Homo sapiens: one gene and its partners. The protein of the gene in region 7 interacts with the protein of the main gene of each other region in a pairwise test. Each region holds a gene or a part of one and is shown on either strand. Other genes may lie near its edges. The genes, in order: CPNE7, FIGLA, TSEN54, QRICH1, PARVG, CWF19L2 and LHX3.

Region 1 (3,500 bases), on a different chromosome or scaffold from region 7:
CAATAAAAAAAATTTGGGCTGGGCGCGGTGGCTCACTCCTGTAATCCCAGCACTTTGGGAGGCCGAGGCGGGTGGATCACAAGGTCAGGAGTTTAAGACCAGCCTGGCCAAGACTGTGAAACCCCGTCTCTACTAAAAATACAAAAAATTAGCCGGGCGTGGTGGCGGGAGCCTGTAATCCCAGCTACTCGGGAGGCTGAGGCAGGAGAATTGCTTGAACTCGGAGGGTGGAGCTTGCAGTGAGCCGAGATTGCACCACTACAGCTTGGGTGACAGAGCAGGACTCTATCTCAAAAAAAAAAAAAAAAATTGAAAAAGAAAACATACAAATACAACAACTACACAGACGTGAAGCAGGAGCGCAATGTGTGAGCAGCTGTTGGCCTCACGGGTTGCAGGACCTCAGAGCTCTTGTAACTTTTTGGTGAGTTTAAAATTATTTTGGGCCGGGCGCGGCGGCTCACACCTGTAATCCCAGCACTTTGGGAGGCCGAGGCGGGTGGATCACGAGGTCAGGAGATCGAGACCATCCTCGCTAACACGGTGAAACCCCGTCTCTACTAAAAATACAAAAAAAAAAAATTAGCCGGGCATGATGGTGGGCGCCTGTAGTCCCAGCTACTTAGGAGGCTGAGGCAGGAGAATGGCGCGAACCTGGGAGGGGGAGGTTGCAGTGAGCGGAGATTGCGCCACTACACTTCCAGCCTGGGTGACAGAGCGAGACTCCGTCTCAAAAAAAAAAAACAACAAAAAAAAGAATGCCGGGCACGGTGGCTCACGCCTGTAATCCCAGCACTTTGGGAGGCCGAGGCGGGTGGATCATGAGGTCAGGAGTTTGAGACCAGCTTGGCCAACAGGGTGAAACCCCGTCTCTACTAAAAATACAAAAATTAGCCAGAAGTGGTGGCGGGCGCCTGTAGTCCCAGCTCCTTGGGAGGCTGAGGCAGGAGAATGGCGTGAACCCCGGGAAGCAGAGGTTGCAGTGAGCTGGGATCACATCACTGCACTCCAGCCTGGGTGACAGAGTGAGACTCTGTCTCACAAAAAACAAAAGAAAAGAAAAGAAAGCAGCAGGCTGGCTGTGGCCCCAGAGACACATACAGGGCCACACGGTGGCAGAGTAGAATCCAGTGCAGTTCTCGGCACCGTATCATTTGTGCAAAGGAAAGACACATGTAAACAAAATGACGATACACACACAGCCAAACAGTAGACATGTGCGCGGCCTTGTGGTGCCCAGAGGAAGAGGAGAGGGGCAGCCTCGCTGCAGCCATGGCCGTGACCGTGTGAGGCGATGGACAGCCCTGTGCCCGAGACACCTGCACCTTTGAGGGAGACGTAGTCAACCAGCTGGGCCCCCGCCCTCCTGAGCTCTGTCCTGCCTGGGGGCCTCTGCGCTGGCTGTTCCCTCTGCCAGGTGCCTCCCTGACGTCCACGCGCTGGTGCACACACAGCCGACCCCACACCAAGCATGCACCACACCCCCCGGGCACCTACAGAGGCTTTCCCGGTGCTCTCCTCGGCCGCCGCCACGCGTGCCACCTTGGAGATGATGGGCGCCACGTTGGTGGGGCCGTAGAGCTGGACCCTGGGCAGGCAGTTCTGGTAGGCCTCCACCACGCCCTGGATGCCTGTGGGGGGCAGGGGGTGAGCCCGGCCCCCCTGCACTCCCCTCCCCAGGCCTGCCTCGAGCTCCTACCTTCACACTCATCGTCCTCAGGGTTGAAATTGATGGCAAAGTCATGGGACACCTGGGTGGGAACAAGAGGGCTCAGTCAGCTGCTCGTTGCAACACACCCCACTGGCCCCATGTCCCTCGGTCAGCTGCTCCCCCCGTCCCCAGCCCCCATGTCCCCCAGTCAGCTGCTCCCCCCGTCCCCGCCCTCATGTCCCCCGCCTACTAAAGAGGGCTCGGTCAGCTGCTCCCCCCGTCCCCGGCCCCCATGTCCCCCAGTCAGCTGCTCCCCCCGTCCCCGGCCCCCATGTCCCCCAGTCAGCTGCTCCCCCGACCTGGCCCCCATGTCCCCCACCTACTGAGAGAGGTAGGCTTGGAGTTTCTAGGGGAAGCCAAACCCATGGGTGACCATGTTCTGCAGAGTCATGAAACAGAGAGGGAGGCAGACCTCCCTGGATCCAGCAGTGCCTGAGGCTTACATTAGCCAATAAATCCCCACACACCATTTTTTCTGCTGAAGCCAGTTGAAGTTTTTTGTTGTTTTCTTTTTTCTTTTTTAAAACAGAGTCTTGCTCTACAGGCCAGGCTGGACTGCAGTGGTGCGATCTCAGCTCAGTGCAACCTCTGCCTCCCGGGTTCAAGCAATTCTCTTGCTTCAGCCTCCCGAGTAGCTGGGATTACAAGCATGTGCCACCACGCCCAGCTAATTTTTGTATTTTTGGTAGAGATGGGGTTTCACCATGATGGCCAGGCTGGTCTGGAACTCCTGACCTCAGGTAATCGGCCCGCCTCGGCCTCCCAAAGTGCTGGGATTACAGGCGTGAGCCACCACGCCTGGCCGAAGCTAGCTGAATTGTTATGTGCAATAGAGGATTCCACACTAACGTCCTTCCCTATCTCCTGAAGGAACACGGAGTTGGCCTCCAGACACCCCTCAAGCTAACAAGTCCTAGGAGGCCAAAGGCCAGCCTCTCTGGCTAGAAGGCTGGGGTTCCCGCTTTGCACCCCAATCCCATCCTACAGTCTCCGGTTCCCAGCAGGCAGCCAGGGCTCCCTGGGCCAGGCCGTCCTCTGCCTGGGAGGGCACGAGAAGGGCACAGCTCTGAGGTCTCAGGTTCTGGGCTCTCCTACCTCATACTTGGGAGGGATCCGGGCTCCAAACCCCAAAGCGGAAAACCTCTTGTCACTGGAAGAGAGGCAGGAGGTCACCAGGAGGCCCTGACCTCTTGTGGCTGCAACAGGGGCCACTTCTAGGGAGACATGACTGGCGCCCAAAAGACTGGGGGTGCCCAGGCCTGGTACCACGGCAGTAAGCACCTGCCAGAGGTGGGGAACCGAGGCTCAGGGCAGCAGAGGCACAGGCCTGTGTGCAAGGGGACACGGTCCTGCCGCCCGCGAGCCTGCCTCCCAACTCCACGTTTGTGTACATGCTGTCCCCCTGCAGACGCCTCCCCGGGGGCTCTCAGACCACGGGAGGGGTCCTGTGGGGCCAAGGAACCCACTGTGGCCCTCACCAACCCAGAAAGAGAGGTCTGTAGGGTAGGGAGCTCAGGGCATCCTCTCCCAAGCCCCAGGCCAGGGGTCTGTGTTGTGGTAAGAAGCTCAGAGCACAGGGTTTTGTGCCGGGCCCTCCCTGGTAAAGCATACGCGGGTGAGCCCCAAGCCTCTGTGACTTCGGTTTGCTATTCTGGCAAAGCGGGACACAGACGTCCCCCCAGGACCATGTGCAGAGTCTATGCGGCAGCCTCCAGTAGGGCTACCCAGCCCTTCCTCGCAGAGTCTCTTTTTTTTGAGACGGAGTCTTGCTCTGTCACCCAGGCTTGAG
Region 2 (3,500 bases), on a different chromosome or scaffold from region 7:
TCTCAGAGATAAATGTTAACAAAGAGAAAACTAGCCAGAAAGACGGCTGCACAGTAGGTACTTCAAAGAAAATGCGAGTTCTTCTCCCTCCTAAACAATTCAGTACTAATGTCATCAGTTGGGTCACAGTTAGGTAGTGAGAAGCCACAGTGACCCAAGTGAAGTGGTATCAGAGCCCAAGCAGGGTGAGATGGCACCCACATACAGAGGCAGCCCAGCGCAGGATATCAGAGATCCAGCAGATGAGGGGCATATTCACATGGGGGGTGTGGTCCAGTGCAAACATGGTACAGCCCAATCAGGATGAGAACGGCAGCCCCATGAAAGGAGTGGAGGCCTGGCCTGGGGACTCAGAGCCCAAGCTGGGTAAGAAGTCCATGGAAAGGGGCAGTTCAGCATGGAGTAGAGAAACCTGAGCTGAGTAGGCCAGGCACTTGTGTGTGCAGGTGATTTAGCGAGAGCAGGGAGAGGAGGAATCCACATATGAGGGGACCGGCGTGGAACGTCAGAGCCAAGAAGGAGGTTTTTGCGGAGGTACAGCTTGCCATGAGTGTTAAAGTTCAAGTGGGTGAGGAGAACAGCCATGTGGTGAGGGGATGGCAACAGAGATGGGAGATGGGTTATACACAGGGGCATCCTCAGATAAGTGGCTGATTCCAGGGCTGGGATAGAAAAGTACAAGATGAGCTTGGAACACCTTCTGCCAAAAAGGAAATGATCAAATAATCGTGATGACATATCAAACAGAAAGGCTGCCAGCTTAAGGAGCTTTCGCTGGCCACAGTGGGGACAATTGGAGCAATAAAATAATAAAAAATGATAGTATATAATAATCCACTGAATTAAACAGAAAACCATGAGCTCATACTAATATAAAAATGTCTGTATAAAAACAACCAAAATGTTCTAAAATATTTACGTGAACAGTTAAACTGTGGTACATCCACACCACAGATGACTACTCAGCAAAAAGCAGAGGAACAGACCATTTATACAATGTGGATGATCTCAAGGGCATCATCTGAGTGGAAAAAGACCATCTGTAAAAGTCACATAATGTATGGTCCCATTTTTATAGCATTCTCAAGATAAATTATAGAGGTGGAGAACAGATTAGTGATGTCCAGGAGTTTGGAAGAATGGAGGGTTGGGAGCAGAGTGTAGGTGTGACCATAAAGGGGCAGCGTGAAGATCTTTGTGGTGATGGAACAGTTCTGCATCTGGATTGCAATGGTGATTCCATGAATCTACACGTGTGATAAAACAACATACAACTATGCATACGTGGTACCAATGTCAGTTTCCCAGTTTTGATATTATACTATAGTTATGGAAGATGCAACCATTGCGGAAAACTGGGCTACGGATGCACAGCACTTTTCTGTACTATTTTTGCAACTTCCTGTGAATCTATAATTACTTCCAAATTACAGATTTGATAAATAAATATAGAATGTTTGATGAGTAATGAGATCTTTACATAGTTTCAAAGCACCTCCTCACAAAATACATATTAATTACAAAAGAAAAAGATTAAAGTGAAAGGCTTGGCAGTCACCACCTTAAGCAAGTGATCAAAGTGAATATCCTTAGAAATAGAATAAATCAAAATCTGCCCCATGTAATAGGATGCAATGAGTAGAAAACAGCATCACTTTTGTTATTCCTGCCGACGATGCATATCTGAATCTAATCGAAAGGAAACAGACAAATGCTGATCAAGACACGCTCTATAAAACAACTGGCCTGTAATCTCCAAACGTGTCATGGTTATAAGTCACAGAAGCACCAAGAAACTCTCCTTCCAGACTGAAGGAGCCATGGCAACTAAATGTAATTCATGATTCTCAGCTGGGTCTTTTTGCTAGAAGAGACATTATTGAGACTACTGGTGAAACTTGAATGGGACCTGAGGATTGTATGGCGGTAACGCCGCAACATTAATCCCCAGACTTAGTGGTTGCATTGTGGCTATGCAGGGGAATGTCCTGTTTGTAAGAAATGTACACTGAAGCCTTAGGGGTGATGGGACATCAGGTTGACCCTCAAATGTGCCAGGAAAAAAGTTCTTTGTACTGCACCTGCAACCTTTCTATAAGTTGACTATTGTTTCAGACTAATTTTTTTAATTTTAAAAATTAATGGCTGGGCATGGTGGCTCATGCCTGTAATCCCAGCATTCTGGGAGGCTGAGGTGGGCAGATCACGAAGTCAGGAATTTGAGTCCAGCCTGGCCAACATGGTGAAACCCCATCTCTACTAAAAATACAAAAATTAGCTGGGTGTGGTGGTGTGAGCCAGCTACTCGGGAGGCTGAGGCAGGAGAGTTACTTGAACCCGGGAGGCGGAGGTTGCAGTGAGTCGAGATGGTGCCACTGCACTCCAGCCTGGCAACAGAGCGAGACTCTGTCTCAAAAAAAAAAAAAAAAAAATGATTTGAATGTGAAAGGATGAAAAATCCTTGACAAAACTGATGAAATACTAGAATGCTTCTGCAAAAAAATGGCACTCTTTACAATCAGGCCTCAGAAGTCATACTTGACAGAAGTGACATGCACTGTCTATAAAAATCTCAAACGTCGAGTCTTCCTTGGTTCATTCTACAAATTAGCACTCTTCCAATTAACAACAAACTTGGTTGGCTAAAAAGACTAAATATTAAGTGTTTTACTCCCTTTTTTGAAGGAAATTCCAGTCAGAACATCTCTGGCTTTTACTAGGAAACGTTAGTCCCCACTCTAAATTAGTGTACTATACGTGGCCTATGCCCAGGTTCAATTATCCTTGGAAAACAAGGACCTCCCATCAAATGTACTTGCTACTAGTACTGCCAAGCACAGGCCTGCTCTGCTACTGCAGAGGCTCCTGTCCCAGCCCAGGTCCAACAGGACTGGCAGGAAGGTGTAGCCAGGTGGCTCACCATGACAGTGACATGATGACACCTACCTGACAAGGATCAATGAGGATTAAGTGCAAGTAAGATTTTCACCTTGATACTAGCATTTGCAGAAGCATTACTCTTCTTAGATAGTCAGGCTCAAGGTCTAGCTCAGGTCATTTTTTTTTTTTTTTTGAGATGGTGTCTCACTCTGTCACCCAGGCTGGAATGCAGTGGCATAATCTCAGCTCACTGCAACCTCCCCTCCCAGGTTCAAGCGATTCTCCTGCCTCAGCCTCTTGAGTGAGTAACTGGGACTACAGGTGCCCGCCACCACGCCTGATTTTTAGTAGCAATGGCGTTTCACCATGTTGGCCAGGCTGGTCTCGAACTCCTGACCTCAGGTGATCCGCCCACCTCGGCCTCCCAAAGTGCTGGGATGACAATTGTGAGCCACTGCGCCTGGCCCCACTCTTTTGTTGTTGTTGCTTTTAGTCATTCCATGTCAGCTCATGTAGTAGCAACAGGAATTCTGTCTCCTATGGGTTGACTGGCCAGCGAAATCTTATATCTCAAGTGGTCAGAATATGAAAATCTACACTGAGCATATGCACAAATGAAT
Region 3 (2,854 bases), on a different chromosome or scaffold from region 7:
GTTACAGTATGTCACAAAAGCTCTAAAGCAGGCACATCTTTTCTTTTCTTTTTGAGACGGAGTCTCACTCTGTCGCCCAGGCTGTAGTGCAGTGGCATGATCTCAGCTTACTGTAGCCTCTGCCTCCTGGGTTCAAGCAGTTCTCCTGCCTCAGCCTCCCAAGTAGCTGGGATTACAGGCGTGTGCCACCATGCCTGGCTAATTTTTTTATTTTATTTTATTTTTAGTACAGATGGGGTTTCACTGTGTTGCCCAGGCTGGTCTCGAACTCCTGACCTCAAATGATCCTCCCGCCTCAGCCTCCCAAAGTGCTGGGATTACAGGCATGAGTCACCACGCCCAGCTCTACATCTTTTCTTTTCTGAAAGTGGAACCTATCCTAAGGAAATAATCGTGGACGTGTACAGTGGTTCACCTGTGAGAATGATCAACGATATTTATTATTTGCTGGGGGTCAGGCCCTGTACACATCGCTGAGAACAGAAGAGCAAAATCACTGCCCTCACAGAGCTTGCATTTAGTGAGGAGTCACACAGAACACACTCACTGTGCAAAATCAGTGTACTTGCAAACAAGAGTTGAACAAGAGGCAGGCTCACACAAATGAGAGGTTATCCCTTAGAGCAGCTCTGTCCAATAGAACTTTCTGTAATGATGAAAATGTTCTGTGTCTGTGATGTCTAATACATGGGGCTAGAGCAACTGTGGGACTGAATGTTTAATTTCATTTAATTTAAATGTATTTAAATCTAACTTAAATAGGCTGGTGTGGTGGCTCACGCCTATAATCCCAGCATTTTGGGAGGCCGACGCGGGCGGATCGCGTGAGCTCAGGAGTACGAGACCAGCCTGGACAGCGTGGTGAAACCCTGTCTCTACTAAAATACCAAAAAAAAAAAAAAAAAAAAATCAGCCAGGTGTGGTGGCAGGCGCCTATAGTCCCAGCTATTCAGGAGGCTGAGGCACGAGAATTGCTTGAACCTGGGCAGCTGAGGTTGCAGTGAGCCGAGATCTTGCCAGTGCACTCCAGCCTGGGCGAAAAAGCGAAACTCTATCTCAAAAAAAAAAGCAAACTTAAATAGCCACCTGTCGCTAGTGGCTCTTTTTTGAACAGCATTGCCTTAAAGCCTTAATTCACAGCCAGGAGGCCAGGCACAGTGGCTCACACCTGTAATCCCAGCACTTTAGGAGGCCGAGGCAGGTGGATCATGAGGTCAGGAGATGGAGACCATCCCGGCCAGCATGGTGAAACCTTGTCTCTACTAAGAATACAAAAATTAGCTGGGCATGGTGGCACGCGCCTGTAGTCCCGGTACTACTCGGGATGCTGAGGCAGGAGAATCGCTTGAACCCAGGAGATGGAGGTTGCAGTGAGCCAAGATTGTGCCACTGCACTCCAGCCCGGTGAGAGAACGAGACTGTGTCTCAAAAAAAAAAAAAAAAGAAAAAGGAAAAAATTCACAGCAGGGAAGAATGCTGCAGTGACGGGGCTGTGTCCACAATATATTATTGAGTGAAAAAAAAGATCACAAAGCAGTATGCTAGTACAATGACATTTTTGTTAGAAAAAAATATATGGAGAGAGATTAGTGTGTACATAAACGAAAGAAAGATGTTAACAATAGTTATCCAAGGTTTTTATTTTTCTATATTTACCAAGTTTGCTAGCTCCTCTGGGCCATTGCCTAGGCAGAGGCACATGGCTGGGCCCCCTGGCTGGGCCTGTACCCCTCATGGGGGTCTGCTTAGGGCCTTAGCACTTGGGTGTGGCTCCGATCCTGGCCCACTGACTGTCCTCTTGGCCCGTTTCCTTACACATCCCACCAGATCCCCAGGCTGAGGAGGTGGGTCAGTGGCCCACCCGCTGTTCTCACCCCACAGCTCTGTCCTGTCCCCGTATGAGAGGCAGCTTAACCTGGATGCCAGCGTGCAGCACTTGGAGGATGGAGATGGCAAGAGAAAGAGGAGCAGCTCCAGCCCTCGGTAACTCCCACATCACGGTGGCCCCCCAGGGAGTGCTGGTGTCTGGGACCTTGGAAAATGCACAGGCTTTCTAAGAACCAGCAGCTCCCATGCAGGCTCAGGGAGACACTAGGGGACCTGCCTTCAGCTCCCATGGGACGTGTGCACCTTAGCAACCAGGGGCAGATGTGCTGCTTTTCCCCCACGTCCCTCAGGTCCATTAATAAGAAGGCCAAGGCCCTGGACAACTCCCTGCAACCCAAGAGTCTGGCAGCCTCCAGCCCACCTCCCTGCAGCCAGCCCAGCCAATGCCCAGAGGAGAAACCCCAGGAGTCAAGCCCCATGAAGGGCCCAGGGGGCCCCTTTCAGCTTCTGGGGTCCCTGGGCCCCAGCCCTGGCCCGGCCAGGGAGGGGGTGGGGTGCAGCTGGGAGAGTGGCAGAGCCGAGAACGGAGTCACGGGAGCCGGTAAGCGGCGCTGGAACTTCGAGCAGATCTCCTTCCCCAACATGGCTTCAGACAGCCGCCACACCCTTCTGCGCGCCCCAGCCCCAGAGCTGCTCCCGGCCAACGTGGCTGGGCGGGAGACAGACGCTGAGTCCTGGTGCCAGAAGCTGAACCAGCGCAAGGAGAAGCTCTCCAGGCGGGAACGGGAGCACCACGCGGAGGCCGCGCAGTTCCAGGAAGATGTCAACGCCGATCCCGAGGTGCAGCGGTGCTCCAGCTGGCGGGAGTACAAGGAGCTGCTGCAGCGGCGGCAGGTGCAGAGGAGCCAGCGCCGGGCCCCTCACCTGTGGGGCCAGCCCGTCACCCCGCTGCTGAGTCCTGGCCAGGCCAGCTCCCCAGGTACCCCCTCAGCCTGCCACATCTTCGAGGGCCACTGGCAGCTGAGGA
Region 4 (2,932 bases), on a different chromosome or scaffold from region 7:
GGTCACAAAATAGCCGAAAAGTAGACAAAAAATAGAGTCAGAACTGCCTTAAAGAGATGGAAATGCACTATTAGAGAGCCAGCTTTGTTTTGGCAAGAGCATAGAACACAGAAGAGGAGTGTATCGGGCAGAATGTTCTTTTTTCTGCTTCCAGGAAGTGTCACACACTGTGCTTGCTTGGAGAATCCCGAAACCCTGCAGGAGAATACTGTTGCCTGCTCCTATCTCATTATGCACCCAGTGCACAAACATGTGCATACTGACTGACTTCAGCACATGAAGGGGCTTGGTAGTCATTCAAATGTCATCTTTCTTTGGTGCAGACCTGGCTGACCAGGGCTCTTATTCAAATTATTGACCTTTGCCTGTACCTAGCTCTGGGCTCACTTATGAACCAGGGTCTTACAGTAACACCAGCCCTGTGGGGGGGATCTTGTAATAGTTCAAATACTGGCATATTGGCTAGGCGTGGTGGTTCACGCCTGTATTTCTAACTGCTCAGGAAACTGGCAGGAGGAGTCTTTGAGTCCAAGAGCTCAAGGCTGCAGTTAGCCATGATTGTGTCACTGTACTCTAGCTTGGGTGACAGAGCGAAACCCCATCTCTTTTTTTTCCCTTTTTTTTTTTTTTGAGACAGGATCTCACTCTGTCACCCAGGCTTAAGTACAGTGGTGCGATCACGGCTCACTGCAGCCTTGACCTCCCAGGCCCAAGGAATCCTCCCACCTCAGCCTCCCTGGTAGCTGGGATCACAGATGTGCACCATCACACGACTAATTTTTTTGATTTTCAGTGGAGATGAGGTCTGGCTATGTTGCCCAGGCTGGTCTTCAACTCTTGGGCTCAAACAATTCTCCCACCTCCGCCTCCCAAAGTTCTCGGATTACAGGCGTGAGCCACCATGCCTGGTCTTCCTTTTTTAAAAAAAGATAAATATTGTAGAAGAGACCCTGTATCTTAGCTAATAATAATAATAATAATAATAATAATAAAATCCCCCAAAGAGTATCAGTCTCTTTATCTAGAGAAGAAATGACAATAGCCGTTTTTTTTGTTTTTTTTGTTTTTTTGTTTTTTTGTTTTTGAGATGGGAGTCTCGCTCTGTTGCCGAGGCTGGAGTGCAGTGGTGCAATCTCGGCTCACTGCAAGCTCCACCTTCTGGGTTCACACCATTCTCCTGTCTCAGCCTCCCGATTAGCTGGGACTACAGGAGCCCGCCACCACACCCGGCTATTTTTTGTGTTTTTAGTAGAGACGGGGTTTCACCATATTGGCCAGGATGGTCTCAATCTCCTGACCTCGTGATCCACCCGCCTCGGCCTTCCAAAGTGCTGGGATTACAGGCATCAGCCACTGCGCCTGGCCGGCCTTGCTTTTTAGAGACAGTTGAGATGAGAGAAGACTTGGTAAGGGCAAACGGGCGTGCATGCCAGTTCTTTGGGTCCTGGACCACCTTTGAAAATATGCAAAGCTCTGTACACTCTCAGAGAATTATGCATATATGCAGAGTTTGGTTTATAGTTTTCTGTACTTCACTGTCTCTGAGGGCAGTCTTTTTGCCCTGTGTTAGCCTTGGATTAGAGGGTAACAACAATCATGTAAGGCTGTGGTTCTCAAGTGTGGTGTTAGAAGTGCTCATCATCAGGTTCCACCTCAGAAACAGATTGGGACCCAGCTATCTGTGTTTTAAGAAGCTTTCCAGATGATTTTTGCCACACTTTAGGGAGAGTCCCCTGATGAAATTTATACTCCTGTGTGGTCCTTATGCTTCACACATCCCATATTGTACCTTTGAGAGACCACCTGCCATCCTCTTGTTGTGACAGTACTCTATTCCTCCTAGGCTATGTCTTGCCCAGCCACGTGACTGAGGAGATGCTATGGGAGTGCAAGCAGCTTGGGGCTCACTCCCCCTCCACCTTGCTGACCACCCTCATGTTCTTTAATACCAAGTAAGTGTTCTAGAGGCTCCACTGCTGGCATCTGTCCAGTGAAGAGTGTGGAAGCTATCCAAGAGGCCTTCTGAATTCCTCTGACATATATTTGAGAAACTGGGCTACTGAAAGCCCTAACCCCACTTGGCTGCATTTTATTTGGTAACCAGTGAGGCAAACACCCTTGCCAGACCCCTACCATCCATCTTGATGTGGTTCCTGCACTGGACACTGCTTGGGTACGGGCCTGCCCAGATCTTGGGAATGTGGGCAGTGGCTCCTCTGAAGCACCAGTGGGCAGAGGATGAGTCATGGTATCCTCCCGGCACCCCTCCCTCTGCCTTGCATTTTACTTGTGATCCAGGTACTTCCTATTGAAGACAGTGGACCAGCACATGAAGCTGGCCTTCTCCAAGGTCTTGCGACAGACAAAGAAGAACCCCTCTAATCCCAAGGATAAAAGCACGAGTATCCGGTACTTGAAGGCCCTTGGAATACACCAGACTGGCCAGAAAGGTAGGGAAAGGAGGCAGGGATGGCAAAAACAGGTGCTACTTGTCCTGCCCTGTCCTGCCCTTGTGCCTGTGAGGCTAGTGATAAGTGTAAAGGTTGGGATTTGCTGGATAAAATTCTCCACTCCCTTCTCCCCAGCCAAAAATTCCAAACTTTCCTCCTAGAAGCAGAGAAGCCCCAGACAGAATAGCTGCCTCTTCCCTTAGTAGTCACTGCCCATGCCTCATACCTTCCCTCCCCCGACCCTGTATTTCCTAGTTGGGCTGGCTGAAAGCCTAAGTTTCCTGATCTGGGCCTGAGGTAAGGCAGTCTGATGCCAGGTCTGTGGTGGTGGGGATGTGTGTTTTATAGTTACAGATGACATGTATGCAGAACAGACGGAAAATCCAGAGAATCCATTGAGATGTCCCATCAAGCTCTATGATTTCTACCTCTTCAAATGGTGAGGCTTTATTGTGACTTGCTGTCCATGTGTGCGCATGTGT
Region 5 (3,500 bases), on a different chromosome or scaffold from region 7:
CCATTATTTTACCAAGGGAGAGATACAGATAGAACAGGTAGAATGTAAATCTCAGAAATCATCCTGTTTATACCCACATAAAATATAATAAAACTACAAATCTCTCACTTATTTCATGCCGGCAGCGTGCCAGGTAATATACCAAACACGTGGGGCTCACCAGCTCATGTATCACTCACAATTCTACCAAGTTGCTATCTTGTACCCACTTTATAAGAAGAAGAGCCTGAGGTTCAGAGAAGTCCAGTAACTCACCCAAGGTCACACAGCAAATGTGGAGGGTTCTCAGCAGACCCCAGGGCCCATAAGTGGTGGAGGCAGGAGGGAAATGTGTGTCTGTCTGGCTACAGAGCGTGATACTTCCACCCTGCCATGCTGCCACACCATATCACACACAAACTTCTCACGTGGCCACCATGTGAGGTGGTTATAAGCACTAACTCTGGCCCCAGCTGCCTGGGTTCAAATCCCAGGTCCACTACTTATCACTGTGTGACTTTAGACAAGTTAATTAACCTCTCTGTGCCTTAACATCCTCCTCTGTAAGTGGGGTAGTACAGTTCCCACTTCAGAGGATTATGGAGAGGATTCAATGAGTTAACATGGAAAGCATTTTGCCCTGGGACTGGCACATAGTGAGGGCTTTATTGGTTTTAGCTACTAGGCATGGGAGTACATTAACCCCTCCCTCCCCAGCCAATGCCCATCCAGAGTCTCTCTGAGAGGTCAGCAGCTCTGGCTACGATCTTCATGAGCCAACTGGTCCATCTGGGACCAGACTCCCTCCCCACCCCAGACCCCAGCACCCAGCAGAACCCAGGTGGCCAGATGCCTACGTCATGTCCCATTCAGGCCACTGGCATCCAGCAGACTCCATGCCCACTCTGCAGGCCCCGGGCTGGCAGCCGGTCTGCTACTGTGCACCCCCTGCTCCCCTGCAGTGTGGGAAGCCTACAGGGACACAGCTTCACTGTGGAAAGCCACAGCCCATGGTGGGTGCTGACCCCCTGAGATTCTGCTCCTGCTCCTGGGAAAATTCGACTTAAGTCAGCCGGGGGAGGGGCTGGGCTCCTCAGGGTGCTTGTGAGAGACATGGAGCCTGCAGACGGCTGGGCTGCGCTGTCACCTACGCCTGGCACATGGGACAAATCTAATAAATTCTGTTTGGGCGAACACAACCACGCAGGGAAGACTCATATGCTTCAAGTCTTGGCATCAGCTAGTCTGAGATTAATTATAAAATAAAATTATAACAATGAGAAGCAGTGACAGCCGAGGTGACTCCAGCTTTGTGAAGTGTTCCCACACCTCCACCCCCGGGATCCCACCATGTCCCTGGTGACCACTGCTGCCTGCCAGCAACAGTCCCACCGGGGAGGGGGACCCTAAGGCTCCAAGAGGTGATGCAACCCCCACCACACAGCAGGTTCCCAGGGCCTGCAGAACCCTCTTTCCTTCCTACGGCCAGTGGCCCTGCCCTGCCTGGGGACGCCGCAGCTCAGTCCCTACCTGGGTGTCCAGATTCTGCACAGACAGGCCCAGGCGGTCCAGCTTCTGGTTGACAAAGTTCACGATGGCCTAACCAGGGAAGAACAAGGGCCTAGCACACAGCAGGTGTGATGGGAGGACCCGTGATTCCCTCCTACAGCGCAGGTGGGCAGTGGGTGGGGTGGGCAGCCTGAGAGCCGCTGAGAGCTTTGATCTCTCCTACCTCTTTCACTGCGTTCACTTTCTCCGGAGCCAGCTTAAATAATTCATCAAAGACGTCCTCTGCAGACACAGATCCAATAAACACCTCATTACGATGCTATTATCTTTGTGCCAAACAGGGAATTTTTTTTTTCACAAAAGTTTCTTAGAATAACCAGTCCAGAGGGAGCTGTCGTTTTACATCATGGTTCTCAAATAAAACAGACCTGGATTTGAGTCACTGCTCTCCTGGCCGTGTGGCCCCAGGGGAGTCACCGTCTCTCTCTGTGCCTCCCTAGCTGGGGTTGTTGCAGAGATGGAATTCCATAGCAGATAACACACATGGCCCCATGGCACAGTGACTGGGCACACAGTAGGACTTCATAAACAGCCACTCTTCCTGCAGCTGACACCTGTTACTACATCTGCACAGCTGCATCCCTTTATCTGCCAGCTGGCACTCCCTCCTCCCAGGGCCCTACTCCACTCCCCAGGGCCACGGGAGCTGCCACAGGTGGGTGATCAGGGTCCATGAGTCTCCTCCCCTTGGTTTTAAATTGGCTGAGTGAGGACTGCTCCCTGCTGCCTCCCCCCGCCCCCAAGAGTGTCTGAACCTGCTGCCTGCAAAAGGCCAGCTCTTCAGCAACTCAGTCACTCCCTTGGGGTCTGGGAACAGCGGCTCAGGCCCTGGGGTCCAGCCTCGGGTGCCCATGTCCTCAGGCTAATGCCCTTTGTGCACTAGCTGGATTCCTGCTATTTGCAGCTAACATACCTCCCATGGGGACACTGGTCCTTGGGCACCAAATACACAGACTGGCCTGAGTTTGCTGTGGCTTCTGCCACTCAGCAGCTGTGTGACTCTAAGCAAGTCACAGCACCTCTCTCTGTTTCAGTTCCCTTGTTAGTGAAGGGGGAAAAGTAGCACCAAATAGCATCATGCACGTTAAAATGCCCCTGCTCTGTGTCCTTTCTTCACCCTCTGACACCCACTTCTCATGCTGCCCCCTGCCCAAAATACTGCTCCCTGGGCAACCCCTCATGTCCTCAGGCTGCCCCTCCTGCTACATACACAGATCCTCAGCCAGCCCTCCTTGCCCCTCCTTTCTCCTTTCTCCCCAAACTCCGCCTTCCTCAGCCCCCATTCTCAGAAGCTCCTGGCAGGTTATTATCTCTACCTCTGCAGGGAAGGTGCCCCTCATAGCATCCCTGCCCACATAGCTATGTGTCTAAGTGGGGAGGGTATAGGGAGGAAAAATAGTGTTAGGATGGATGGATATGGGTGAATACATAGGTGGTTGGATGGGTAGATAGATGAATGGGTGGATGAATAGGTGGGTAGGTGGATAGATGAATGGATGGATGGATAGGTGTGTGGGTGGATGGATGGATAGATGGATGGATGGATGGATGAATATATGGATAGGTGGGTGTATGGATGGATGGATGGATAGATGATGGATGGGTAGGCGGATGGATGAATGGAAGCATGAATGGATGGATGGAGGGATGGATGGATGGATGAATGCGTGGATAGGTGGGTGGGTGGATGGATGGATGGATGGATGGATAGGTTGATGGATGGATAGGTGGATGGATGGATGGACAGGTGATGGATGGGTAGGTGGATGGATGAATGGAGGCATGAATGGATGGATGGAGGGATGGATAAATGGATGGGTGGGTGGATAGATGAATGGAAGAATGGGTTGATGGATGCATGGGTGTATGAATGGATGGATGGATAGGTGGGTGGGTGGATAAGTGGGTAAGTAGATAGATGAATGGAAGAAAGGATGGATCAATAGATGGAT
Region 6 (3,500 bases), on a different chromosome or scaffold from region 7:
ATAGCACTGTTGTATCTCTACGTAACTTTGATGTTATATTTTCATTGCTGTCCCATTCAAAATATTTTTTACTTTACTTTTTCTTACTCATGGATATATAAGAGTTTTTAAACTTGCAGATATTTGTGGATTTTTCTAGTTTTTTTTTGGGTTATTGACTTTGATTTTAATTATTATGTTATACTCTGTATAATTTCAGTTTTTAAAAAGTTTTTGAGACATTTTATTTTCTAGCCTATGATCTATTTTGGTGAAAATTCCATATGTATTTGAAATGAGTATGTATTCTGCCATTGTTAGGTATAGTGTTTTATAAATGTCAATTAGGGAAAGTTGACTAATAGTATTAAGTTTAGTGTTAATGATTTTCTGTTCACCTGTTCAGTCAGTTACTGAGAAAATAGTATTGAAATCTCTTAATTGTTTTGTGGATTTTACCTATTTCTGCTTTCAGTTTTGTCAGTTTTTGCCTTATGTAATTTTGAAGCTTTATTAGGTACATAGACAGCTCCTTGATGAACTGACTGTTGTTACGAAGTTTTCGTTTTTATCTTTGGTAATACTCTTGTCTGAAGTCTCTTGTATCTCATATTAATAAAGCCTCTTCAGTTTTCTTTTTTTGTGTGTTTTCATCGTCTTTTTAAAATTCTTTTAGTTTTAATGTACCTTTTTTATATATTGAAAGTGTATTTCTTGTAAGCAGTGTATAATTGGGTCTTGCTTTTTTATCTCGCCTATCAATTTCTTCTTTTTTATTTTATTGATTGATTGATTTATTGATTGATTGACAGAGTCTTGCTTTGTTGCCCAGGCTAGAGTGTAGTAGATCACTGCAGCTTCAACCCCTGGGGCTCAAGTGACTCTCCCACCTCAGCCTCTTGAAAGCTGGGACTACGGGTGTGCACTTCGACGTCCAGGATATATATATATGAGTTTTTAAATTTCCAGATATTTGTGGATTTTATTAGGTTTTTTTGGTTATTGACTTTGGATTTAATTATTATTTTATTGTACTCTGTATAATTTCAGTTGTTAAAAAGTTTTTGAGACATTTTATATTCTAGCCTATGATCTATATATATTTTGTAGAGATGTGGTTTTGCCATGTTGCCCAGCCTGGTCTCAAAGTCTTGACCTTAAGCAATCCTCCCACCTGGGACTCCCAAAGTGCTGGAATTACAAATGTGAGCCACTGCATCTGGCCTCTTCCTTTTTTTTTTTTTTCTTGAGATGGAGTCTCACACTGTCACCCAGGCTGGAGTGCAGTGCCGCAATCTTGGCTCACGTCTCTTACTTTTCAATTAGATGTTTTTTGTGCTCTCTAATCTGTTAGCTGTTTATGGCTTTTAAATTTTTTGTTAAAATTCATTAAAATTATATCAGCCAAATTTATGTGGCTACTATATTCGACAGTATATAGAAAAATTCTTTGAATAGTACTGGTTTGGATTATTTATGTTTAATGTAATAATTGATATGGATGAGTTTAAGTCTACCATGTTGTTATTCCTTTTCTATTTTTTCTTTGTTCTTTTTTCCTTTGTTCCTTCCTTTTCCTGTCTTTTGGATCGAGTGTTTTTTAGCATCCCATTTCATCTGCTGTAGGCTTATTAGGTATACCTTATTTATTTTTAATGACTGCTTTAAGTCTTATGCATATTTTAACTTACCATACTCTCAAATAATATATAATTTTACTTTTATAATTAGACTTTCACCAAAATATACTTCCATTTTCTCCTACCATATTTTTTGCTATTGTTGTCATATATTTTACTTCTACATATGTTATAAACCCACATTGTTTATAATTTTTAATGTCATACATTCTTTTTATTTATACTTTAGTCAGTTATCTTTTAAATAAGTTACACATATGAAGAAAGTCTTTTATATTTACCCACAGATTTATCATCTCTGATATTCTTTATTATTTTATGTAGGTCTGAATTTCTGTCTAATACCATTTTCCTTTTGTCTGTAGAACTTTCATTAACATGTATTATAATATGGATTTGCAGACATTGTATTCTCTCAGCTTTTGTTTGAAAATTTCTTTTATTTCATCTTCATTCTTTTTTTCTTTTACCACAAACTCAGAAGTTCCTACTAGCAATCTTCATTTTTCAGATACTTGGCTAGATAAAGAATTTTAAGTTTATAGTGTTTTCTTTTTTTTTTTTTTTTTGCACTGTAAAATGTCATCCCATTGTCTTCTGGTTTGCATTGTACATATTGAGAACTCTGTAGTCATTGTAATATTTTTTCTCTGTATGTAGTGTGCCTTTTTATTCTGGATGCTTTTAGGGCTTTTTTTTTCATCATTATTTTTCAGTGAATCAATTGTGATATGTCTTGGTATTGATTTCTTTGTGTTTATTCTACTGTCTTAGTTCATTTGGGCTGCTATACCAAAACTAACTGGGTGGATTATAAATGACAGAAACTTATTTCTCACAGTTTGGGAGGCTAGAAAGTCTAAGATCGAGGCGCTGGTAGACTTTGTGTCTGATGAGGGTTCAGTTCCTCAGAGATGGCTGTCTTCTCACTCTAACCTCATATGGCAGAAGGGAGTGCTCTTGGGCTATGTTTTATAAGGGCACTAATCCCATTCCCAGTCATCTCCCAAAGGCCTCAGCCCCTATTATCATTGTCTTGGGAGTCAGGATCTCAACATAAGAATTTGGTGGGGGACACAAACATTCAGAGTGTAGCATCTGCCTTAGGTTCATTGTGCTGCTTTGATTTGTGAGTTTACAGTTTCCATCAAATATGAAACTTTCAGGCTTTTTTCGAAGTATTTTTTTTTTCTGTTCCCTCTCATTTTGGTAGTCTCCTTAAAATAATGTCTCACAGGTTGATGAGCCTGTGTTCACTTACTTTCTAGCCTTTTTCCTTTCTATGCCTTGGGTTGGGTATATTTTATTGCTATGTCGTGAGCTTCAGGTTTACTGGCCTTTTTTTTTTTTTTTTTTTTTTTTTGTGACGGAGTCTCGCTCTGTTGCCAGGCGGGAGTGCAGTGGCGTGATCTCAGCTCACTGCAACCTCCGCCTCCTGGGTTGAAGTGATTCTCGTCCCTCAGCCTCCTGAGTAGTTGGGATTACAGGTGCTCATCACCACGTCCAGCTAATTGTTTGTATTTTTAGTGGAGATGGGGTTTCACCATGTTGGCCAGGATGGTCTGGATCTCCTGACCTCGTGATCTGCCTGCCTCAGCCTCCCAAAGTGCTGGGATTACAGGTGTGAGCCACTGCGCCTGGCCGACTGGCCTTTTCTTTTGCTGTGTCTAGCTTACTGTTATCCCTATCCAGTGACATTTTCATTTCAGGTACTGTATTTTTTTTTTATCATTAGATGTTTCGTTTGGATCTTTCTAATGTTTTTCAGTTTATCTCCTCATTATCTTTACATTTTCCCTTCCTTGAACATATTTATGATAGCTGTGTTAAAGTCTTGGTTTGCTGTTTCATTTTCTCTTGTTTTTTCCTGTTCTGTTTCAA
Region 7 (3,190 bases):
CCGAGACGGGCCTGGACATGCGCGTGGTGCAGGTCAGCGCTCGCCCCTGCTTCCCTCCCGCCCGCGGCCTTGGGGGCCCCCGCAGAGCCGGGCGGCCGCTCACCCCGCCCCGCCCCCAGGTTTGGTTCCAGAACCGCCGGGCCAAGGAGAAGAGGCTGAAGAAGGACGCCGGCCGGCAGCGCTGGGGGCAGTATTTCCGCAACATGAAGCGCTCCCGCGGCGGCTCCAAGTCGGACAAGGACAGCGTTCAGGAGGGGCAGGACAGCGACGCTGAGGTCTCCTTCCCCGGTAGGCGGAGGGATCGCGGAGCTCGGGGGGGGACGAGCGCGCGTCGGCGGGGTCGCAGGGGTCCCAGGGAGCCCGCGGATCTGAATTTCCCATGGAGTTAGTGGACTCCTTAAGTTCTACTTTCAAAAGCATTTCACTTACAGAACCTGCTCCCCCAGCACCCTCCCCGCCCTGGGTGGCCACTCCGGACCACTGCTTTTCCCCTGGTGGGGACACAATCCCTGTGGCCCGACCTGTCCCCAAGCTGGGCGCCTACGGGCTTTCTCATGGGGGGGTGGGCGTGTCCAGGCCGTCTCTCTGGCTCCTAGCCCTTGCAGTGATTTTTAGGAGAATGGGCAGTGCATTTCGGGAAAGACTGAGTCGAAGTCCCAGCTGCTTGGAGTTGGGGGAGGGGGCTACCTGGGGTCAGGGAGAGAAGGTTCCATACCCTTCTGTGGGGCCTGGATTATTTATTTCATTCTCCGGGCACCGGGGATGCTGCGTCCCCATCTGTTGATGCCCATCCTCAGAATGTGGACAAGACACTCTCTTTTGGGCTGCCTCGTGACCCGGGCTACTCACTCAGCCACTCTGGAACTAAATATCCTTGTCTGCAAAATGTGGGTGGTGGTATCTGTGCCCCCTTCCTAGGCTGCTGTGGGGCTGGTCCTGAAAGCCTGGGCCCTGGCTGGGCTGTTCCTGACTCTGATCCCACCAGGCCTGAGACACCTGGGCTGACTCAGGGGTGAGGGCAGTGGAGGGGCAGGGGCAGCCATGCTCCAACAGTAGAAGGGGCCTGTTATGACCTGTCATGTGGTGTGGGGCAGCCACTCTTTCTCCGACCCAGGGGTGCCTCCGCCTGCAGGATGGGACTCTGAGGGGCCGCAGGTGGAGGGCAGGCGCTGACTGAGCCTCTGCTTCTGTTGCAGATGAGCCTTCCTTGGCGGAAATGGGCCCGGCCAATGGCCTCTACGGGAGCTTGGGGGAACCCACCCAGGCCTTGGGCCGGCCCTCGGGAGCCCTGGGCAACTTCTCCCTGGAGCATGGAGGCCTGGCAGGCCCAGAGCAGTACCGAGAGCTGCGTCCCGGCAGCCCCTACGGTGTCCCCCCATCCCCCGCCGCCCCGCAGAGCCTCCCTGGCCCCCAGCCCCTCCTCTCCAGCCTGGTGTACCCAGACACCAGCTTGGGCCTTGTGCCCTCGGGAGCCCCCGGCGGGCCCCCACCCATGAGGGTGCTGGCAGGGAACGGACCCAGTTCTGACCTATCCACGGGGAGCAGCGGGGGTTACCCCGACTTCCCTGCCAGCCCCGCCTCCTGGCTGGATGAGGTAGACCACGCTCAGTTCTGACCCAGGCCCGGCTCCACCCTGCACCTCACACGAGGGAGCTGCCCCTGGGTGGGCGGCTCGGGGCTGCTGGGGTTTCCGAGGAAGTGGGGCCAGGGCGTCAAGGGAGGGCTGGTGCCTTCGGAGCCTCCCACTGCCGACCGCACAGCTCCCTCTCTGGGGGCTGAGGGACCCACCTGGCCCCTCCTCTGACACAGGGCTGGCCCGCCAGGTGGCCTCCCAGCAAGCCAGCCTTTTTTGTAAGCAAATTTCTCCCCTTTATTGACCAATTAACTGAGCACTTGCTGCTATTTCTAGACATGAAATGTCACCTTGCTGAGGCCCAGCCCAGCCCAGCATAGCCCGAGGGCTGGAAAAACGCTTTCATCTCTAAAACTGAGAAATCATCATAATTGTGCTTTCACTTCCCAGGCTCCATGTGTCTTGGAGCCGTCACCCCGAGGCTCCCTCTTTAGGTCGGAGATTGGCCTTGCCTGTCGAGGCAAGAGGCTGCAGAGGCGGGGACACACCTGTGTCCTCCGGGAGAGGCCCCCTCCTCTCCCCAGACCACAGGGGGCCTCTCTGCCTCCAGCCCCACCTTCCCCGGGAGAAGCTTTCCCCAATCCCCAGGTCTCTAGATCATTCTGTTCTCGAGTATCCTGTGGAGGAGGCAAAAATGCCTGGCGCCCCTTCTCTCCAAGCTCAATTCTCTAAGCCCCTCAGGGTCTCCTCCTCACCCCACCCCAGGCCCTTGGTGTCCAGGCTGCACCCACAGATGTCTGTTGCCAAACAGCCTGCCCTCCCTGCCGGAGCCGGCTCTGCCAGCCCCAGATTGGGAAGTCTCCCCGCTGGAGAAGGGTGGGGCTCCTCTGAGCCTGCCCTGCCTCCTCCATCAGATCCTTTGGGAAGAAGTTTCTGGGAGATGCCCGCAGCTGTGCGTGCCCCAGACACAAAGGCTGGCCTGTGTGTAAGTCAAAGTCACTCCCGCAAACCTGAATCTCGAGCTACCTATTGGTTCTGTGAATGTTCTGTGTCTTTTATTTATTCTCGGGTGATCAGCTCTTTCCAAGACTTCAATAAATTTGTCAGTTACAGTCAATGGAAGGCCCGCGTTTTTTTGAGGCTGCGGGGGTTGGGGAGTGTTGGGTGTGGGGAACATTCTGTGAATGTTGAGAGGCAGCCCTGGAGGGGCCCTGAGTCCCCCTAGTTCGTTGCTTGGGCTGGCACCTAGTATGAATTTGGGCTCTCTTTATCCCTGGATCTTGGCCATGCTCATGAGCACTGGAAGGAGGTGGGGGGAACAGCCCATCCCTTCCTGATGGAGGGGAGGGGTTGCGGTCTCCACACCCTGTCCCTGGGAGAGGCAGGGGTTGGGATGTCCAGAGAGCATGATGGGGGTGGGAGGTGGGCCGTGTGTGCCATTCACAGCTTGCAGCTGGCACCAACCCCAGGACATAGGCTGGTAGGGTGACCAGGCTCATGGTCATGGAAGTCTCTCCAGCTTGGATTCCAATCCTGGCTCTTCTAACTTGCTGTGTGACCCTGGGCTGGGGGCTGGAACCCTCTGAGCCCTGCTTCCCCGTCCCCACCCCCCAACCC

The links.
Region 1: the proteins of LHX3 (region 7) and CPNE7 interact in binary tests that used the Homo sapiens proteins (3 or more experiments, as listed by UniProt).
Region 2: the proteins of LHX3 (region 7) and FIGLA interact in binary tests that used the Homo sapiens proteins (3 or more experiments, as listed by UniProt).
Region 3: the proteins of LHX3 (region 7) and TSEN54 interact in binary tests that used the Homo sapiens proteins (3 or more experiments, as listed by UniProt).
Region 4: the proteins of LHX3 (region 7) and QRICH1 interact in binary tests that used the Homo sapiens proteins (3 or more experiments, as listed by UniProt).
Region 5: the proteins of LHX3 (region 7) and PARVG interact in binary tests that used the Homo sapiens proteins (3 or more experiments, as listed by UniProt).
Region 6: the proteins of LHX3 (region 7) and CWF19L2 interact in binary tests that used the Homo sapiens proteins (3 or more experiments, as listed by UniProt).

What each region holds. Positions count from the first base shown.
Region 1 is NC_000016.10:89,589,258-89,592,757, reverse strand, and holds part of CPNE7 (copine-7), read right to left. Parts: intron 2,862-3,500; coding exon 2,807-2,861; intron 1,752-2,806; coding exon 1,700-1,751; intron 1,632-1,699; coding exon 1,498-1,631; intron 561-1,497; coding exon of another isoform or gene 558-560; exon of another isoform or gene 1-557. UniProt on the Homo sapiens protein: Calcium-dependent phospholipid-binding protein that may play a role in calcium-mediated intracellular processes.
Region 2 is NC_000002.12:70,780,644-70,784,143, forward strand, and holds part of FIGLA (factor in the germline alpha), read right to left. Parts: intron 1-3,500. UniProt on the Homo sapiens protein: Germline specific transcription factor implicated in postnatal oocyte-specific gene expression.
Region 3 is NC_000017.11:75,519,528-75,522,381, forward strand, and holds part of TSEN54 (tRNA-splicing endonuclease subunit Sen54), read left to right. Parts: intron 1-1,881; coding exon 1,882-1,983; intron 1,984-2,177; coding exon 2,178-2,806; intron 2,807-2,854.
Region 4 is NC_000003.12:49,032,140-49,035,071, reverse strand, and holds part of QRICH1 (transcriptional regulator QRICH1), read left to right. Parts: intron 1-1,843; coding exon 1,844-1,952; intron 1,953-2,298; coding exon 2,299-2,450; intron 2,451-2,798; coding exon 2,799-2,889; intron 2,890-2,932. UniProt on the Homo sapiens protein: Transcriptional regulator that acts as a mediator of the integrated stress response (ISR) through transcriptional control of protein homeostasis under conditions of ER stress.
Region 5 is NC_000022.11:44,194,425-44,197,924, reverse strand, and holds part of PARVG (gamma-parvin), read right to left. Parts: intron 1,771-3,500; coding exon 1,712-1,770; intron 1,579-1,711; coding exon 1,510-1,578; intron 1-1,509. UniProt on the Homo sapiens protein: Plays a role with ILK in promoting the cell adhesion and spreading of leukocytes.
Region 6 is NC_000011.10:107,447,826-107,451,325, reverse strand, and holds part of CWF19L2 (CWF19-like protein 2), read left to right. Parts: intron 1-3,500.
Region 7 is NC_000009.12:136,195,750-136,198,939, reverse strand, and holds the end of LHX3 (LIM/homeobox protein Lhx3), read left to right. Parts: coding exon 1-32; intron 33-119; coding exon 120-288; intron 289-1,196; coding exon 1,197-1,615; 3' UTR 1,616-2,690; downstream 2,691-3,190. UniProt on the Homo sapiens protein: Transcription factor.